Linked DNA regions of Homo sapiens: region 1 is linked to region 2. The links come from fine-mapping of genetic effects on gene expression. A gene starts in region 2. The other region holds a variant in brackets. All regions are shown on one strand. Distances are from middle to middle. Region 1 overlaps TENM2 (teneurin transmembrane protein 2). Region 2 holds the start of TENM2 (teneurin transmembrane protein 2).

Evidence for each region. PIP is the estimated chance that this variant, and not a neighbour inherited with it, causes the effect.
Region 1: its variant is fine-mapped to the expression of TENM2 in liver (GTEx, PIP above 0.99).

Annotation. Positions count from the first base shown.
Region 1 is chr5:167,377,340-167,380,253 of GRCh38, forward strand. All of the region lies in intron 4 of TENM2 (teneurin transmembrane protein 2), which reads left to right. Among named protein-coding and RNA genes, the nearest start is that of TENM2-AS2, 75 kb to the left of the region's middle. The variant A/C (reference allele first, on the strand shown) is at 1,685.
Region 2 is chr5:166,977,564-166,980,477 of GRCh38, forward strand. TENM2 (teneurin transmembrane protein 2) reads left to right here and starts at 1,466. Exons shown (of 31, transcript NM_001395460.1): 1 at 1,466-1,960. RefSeq lists enhancers at 523-1,024, 1,025-1,524.

The sequences.
Region 1 (2,914 bases), 400 kb after region 2:
AGTTGCAATGCAGTCAGAATTACATGAAGAGAAATGTACTTAGAAGCACTAAGCAACTCTGTATGTGAGTGTGGCTGGCAAGGCACAAAGGAGGTATTGAAGCCAGAGTTCAAACTAGGTGAGAGATGCTTATTTTAAAATATACAGGTAGAATGTCTTTGTTTTTCTTTTTAAAACATTTTTTCAATATTTTACATATTCAAAAGAGGTACATAATGTATCTTCTGTTCTCATTCTTGGCCAGAAATAAAAATAAGAAATTTTACACATCACATCATAAACTCTTTAAGCAAATACAAATTGAAGTGTGAGCAACTCTGCAGGCAGAGGTGTTAACTTCAGTAAACTTCTTGCTCTTTCTCTCTGACAAATTCTGTTTAGCTCACAAAGAAATCAATGCTTTTTCACATCACTGATTTTATGAAGTTTGGGAATGTATTATCATATAGATTGACAGTTGCCCCACTGGTTCCACACCACGGCATGGACACTTACAAAGCCATCATTAATTTCTCACACTTGTACCCAGTGATGGCTTCCTCCATAATAAACACTGTGTCCTTCAGAACCAAATCAATAACCTTTTAGGTATGCCTTTCTTGAAGAGGAAGTAACAGGAATCTATACTTTGAGAAAGAAGCTCTCCAATTTGATTTTAGGTTTTAAAGATACATGGTCAGAAAATGAATCTTTTCTGTGGGGTTCCATATGTTTTAATTTCATTTCTTGGTGGGATTTTGGGATAAATGGATTTTTCACCGTGTTTACTTAAAAATCTCCCTTAAAAAATTCCAGTTGTGATTTTGCTAAGCATAGTTAATGAGTGAAGACAGATCTCAGAAACCAACTTCCTTTTTGGTAATATGAAGTGTATATTCAGTCTGCAAAGTCATATAGTAAAATCTTTAATTTTGCCAACAGTTCTCCCTAGATCAATGTTGATTGTGCTTCCTACATGCTGCTGTGACAAAAATGACCCATTGGATAACTTGACAGTCCCATCAAACAGATGAACCTGTCTTTCTTTTCTTTCTTCTTCTTTTTTTTTTTTTTTTGGTAGTGTAGACACCATAGTGCTTCATCCTACACTCATTGATTTAGCCTCTGCATTAACATTGTGCTGGCTTGGATTGGGTTGCTTCAAATATATAAAACTCTCAGATTCATGTTATCTTTTCAGGTTCTTTAATCCTATCTTGAAGTCAATAATGATTTGGCTAGAAATGGCAATGAGAGTTGAGAACAGCCCGGCCAAGTTTTTGCTGCTGTGAAATTTGAAAGGGCTTTCCTAGTAACTTTAAATTAGAGTCCATACTTTTGTTCAATAATAAATGTCCCACTTAAAATATGTCCTCTCTAAGGCCATTTGTATTATATGAGTTATGGAGAAAAAGGGGTAGTCAGTAATACAGAAGAATAACTAATTGCCTCCTTAAAGATGCAAAGCAGCACAAACTAAAAAATCTTGTCTATGTTCTCTTGACTCCCTTAGGCGATTTCTTCACCTTGGGACTTAAAAATTTCCTTTTTTTTTTTTTTTTCCTTCCAGCAGAATTCTAGTTTCAGTTATTTTATTGGAAATCCAGAAAGGGAAAAAACAAAAAAACAAAAAACAAAGAAAATAAAGTTGGTATGAAATAGGAAGCTAGAAATGGCAGTAAGTGAAATCTGGTGTTGGTTAAAC[A/C]TTTAAGAAAATTATTCTTCCCCTCCCCTCTCCATGTCCACCCAAAGTAAATAAGTACAATGTTCATTTTCATCTGTTGTAATTGGGAAATTTACAATCCTCATAATGTACTTTGAGGTTGAGATATAAATGTTGGGTTAATTCCATTGCATTTCACAAAATGCATTTATAAAACAAGCTGGCTCTGGGCACGTAATGGATTTATGTAAAGCGTATTTGTGAAACACAGATTCTATTAGATTGAGTCCTTTTGGCAAAAGGTCTGTAGCGTATCTGTCTCCTCGGCAGAGTTCCAACACACCCAGGTACTCACTGCTTGTTAACTGAGACATGAGGAATGAAGCCTGAGGGAAGGAAGGATTTTCCTTAGCACCGGGGACAATGTCCTTAGATTGTTACTGCCAACCAAGTTGCATTCATTTGTCATTTAAGGTGAGTTACTTAAATTTTTCTCCTTTCTCTCCAGAAAGCGGCCTCTCAATAAATCTAGCATTGGAGCGTTTCTTAAGTAAACACAAACTAAACATGCGAGTGGAATTCTATTTCTACTCCCACTCTATTACTCTTACATGCTCAAATTAACTTTGTATTTTATAACCCACTCTACTCCTTTCTTCTCCCTAATCCCTCACGTAAAATCACAGAGAATGCCTGGAACAGACATAAAAACTTACTAAGAGCTCCAGACCTAGCCAAAGGCCCATAATTTTGCTGTTAAGGAAGTGAAAAGTCAGTGGTAAGAATAGTGAAAGAGGTAGCTACAAAAAGCATACATTCATATTTGACTGTGCTTGATGTTGATATGGGATGATTTCTTTTCCAGCCACATTTTATGAAGCCAATTTCCATGGAACCTAAAGAAAATTGTCTCAATTTCTTAAAAACAAAACAAAATTTAAAAACATACCAAAAAAAAAAAAAACCCAGAACAAAGTTTTAAGCCATTTGGATGACATTGATTTCAATTTGTGTTTTTAGGCTTTATTTTATATACCTGTACATTTAAAAGAATACCATTATAAAGAAGAGTATGAAATGAGTTATCATGGATTTAAAAAAACGAAGGACACAGACACAAAATATCATAGGTTCTGTGTTTTCCATTCCTAAATGAAAGAATGATCTCCTTTACATTTTTCTAATTCAATTCCCTCAAAGTCCAGGTATTGGAAGCTATAGAGAAAACTTATTTTTAAAAAGTTTATTCATGGGAGTCTTAATATATGATTA
Region 2 (2,914 bases):
TAGACCTTGCAATAGGACAAACAGTGTCTTCATTCAGGGCCTGTCCCTTGAGGGAAGTGACACCACATCTCAGTCTCAGCCTCCTCATATGTAGAAGGGGGGTAGGATAGTTTCTTTACAGAGTTCCTTTAAAGATTAAGATGGCACCTAATTAAAGGATGAACAAGAGTATGTAATCAAGAGATAAGTATTATTAATATTAGTACTATGAAGACATTGGCAAATTTCAGGCATGCAGTTTTTCAAGGTTTGTAGGTTATTGAAGACAACAAGCCAGGTACAGCTTGAAGGCCAGAGGATGTTATCACCCAAACACCCACCAGGCCTTTACCTTGCTGTACTTGCCTAGCGTTCATCCACACTCCTCATCCTGTCTCCAGTGACTGAGGGCCAGACTGCAGGGTTTAGATTCTTGATGTATTGGGTATGATATACTAGCAGTTGGTAACATTCTGGGGCCTCGGTTTCCTCCTAGGGTGGATCATACAGTGTCTGAACAGGTTAAAATCAGATAATTCATAGGCAACACATTCCACAGAGCCTGCACAGAGCTGAACAAGCAATACTTGTTCAGCTGTTACTATTAAAACCACCAGGCCCTGCTGGATTTTCTGTTAATTACCCTGTAAACTGAAACAGCCTTTCCTGGGCTAAGAATTGTTTCTTTTCAAAGATTCCCTATATGAAAAAAAGAGAAGTAACTCCTCTCTGACGTCTGGAAATCTAGCTTCCCCATCACTACGTCCTTGGGTGCAGGTTCAGAGCCACCGGGCAGCCTAGATGAGGCAGGTGAGCAGCGGCTGAAGACTCTGGAACCTTTGCTTCTCTCTGGAAGCTGCAGAGCTCGGCTCTGCCCTGCTCTGCGTTCCTAACCCTGGAAGAAGCGGTCTGGGTGCAGCCAAGCACTGGACATGCTCGCGAGAGCCAGGGCAGGCTCGGGTCGTCCGCAGGACTCGAAGGCTTGCTGTGCTCTCCTGTTTGCAGAGACCTGGGTGTAGCTGTGGTGCATAGATGTGGTGCATCGGGTGCCGAGCGGATCCCTCGGTGCGTGCAGCTAGGGATCCAAGCCTCCTCAGGCTAACCCTAGAGCCGAACTGAACTCTGAGCCGCCCGGGGTTCGCGCGCTCAGTTCCTGGTCTTGGAAACGCCCAGCTGGGGTTCTCTCTGCAGACAAAGGGGTGCACGTGTCCCTAGCGCCCCTCTTTCTCAGCCGTGAGCCCCTCCCTGGCTGCGTACCCCGCAGCCACAGCAGCTGCAGCCCCAGCGCCACCACCCAACCCCGGCGGCCTGGGCCGGTGCGCGCTCTCGGGGCCCAGGGATTGGCTCGCACTCCCCATTCAGGGACCGCGAGGGCTAGCGGGCGGCGCACGGCGCTCTGTGTGTGTGTGTGTGTGTGTGTGTGTGTGTGTGTGTTTGTGTGTGCGCGCGCGCGCGTGTGTTGTGCGGCGCGCGGGCGAGCGCGTGTGTGCGCGCGAGAGCTCGCGTGCAGGAGTCACTGGGTGTGCGTGCGTGTGTTATGGGTTTGATTCCAGAGCAGGTTGCACATTGGTCCTGGGTGGCTCGCAGGCTCAGGTCGTGCTTGGGCGTCCTCCTCCTAATCGTTTCCGAAGTAGCAGCAGCAGCACCACCACCAGCAGCAGCAGCAGCAGCAGCAGCAGCAGCAGCAGCAGCAGCCGCCGCGGCAACATCGAGCTCAGCGGCACAGCAGGCAGAACTGTGCAGAAGCGAGCACCGTTTGGGGAGTCCGGGGGGCGGGTAAGAGGGAGGAGGGGGAAAGCCTGTCTTGGTCTTTGGGATTATTTTTTTTCCCCTTCTTTCCCTCTCTCTCTCTTTCTTGAGGGTGTGTGTTGCCCCCTCGAAGTGAAGGAATTTTGCTCCAAAGCGAGCTGGGACCGAAGACTCTAGGCTAAGTTATCTATGTAGATGGTGTCAGGGAGCGAAGCTACTGACCGAGCTGCTGGTAAATGTTTTTCACTTCTTACTCTTTAATGCTTAAGGCTTTTTTCCCCTTTTCTTTCTTTCTTGTTTCCTTTCTGTTGCTCCTCATTCTGCAATCGCTCCTGAATCAGCTGCAGTTCTCTTTCTCTCCTTGCGTTTGTGCAGTTTACAACTTGTTTCATGGTTTTCTATGTATTTTTTTTTCCTCCTTCATCCTCAGATGAATGCTGGAACATTTAAATTCGGCACTTCGGGAGGTCATCATTAGTTGCATGAGTTTCAGGGGGGGAGGGGAAAGATTGCTAGAGCAGACTGTTATTTCCCTGCAGAAGGACTGCCGGTTTCTCTCTAATGTTCATCGCAATTATAGGGATTTTTTTTTAGGATGCATTTTAACGTTGCATTGCTGTTTAAGGTTATCGTTCTCCAGGATTACAATGCATTTGACTCAGTTTTGACAGCATGAGAGATGCCAGTGATTCCAGAACTACTGTATGGTACATGCTGGCTAAAATATTCAAAATTGCAGGAGGAATCATTTGCATTCCAAAAGAGAATTTCTTTAAAAATGCCGTTTTGCATCACATTGCTACAGATTTGCAGGAGGCAATAATAGACACCACTACCCATGTTGCTTGCAAAAGATAATAAACATATAAGTGCTTTAGTGCATCACATACTGTCTTGGGCTCCAGTGATTGAGCTATTGCTAAATTTACTTAATAATAAATTTAGGGCTATGGAGAAAGAGGGAGATTGCTGGTACTGTTTTATTCAAAATTGTGAGACACGTACAGCAATATCTCTCTTAGATCTTACTTGAAGTGGCATCTTGTCAATGGAGGGGAGGGTTCTGCATACACATGGAATAAAATTATTTAAAATAGCCAGCATAATGAATGCAAATTGAACTCTAACTCTTTTCTTAAAAATAGAACTCACTCTGTAACTCTGGCTGCCGGGATCTGTTTTAAAT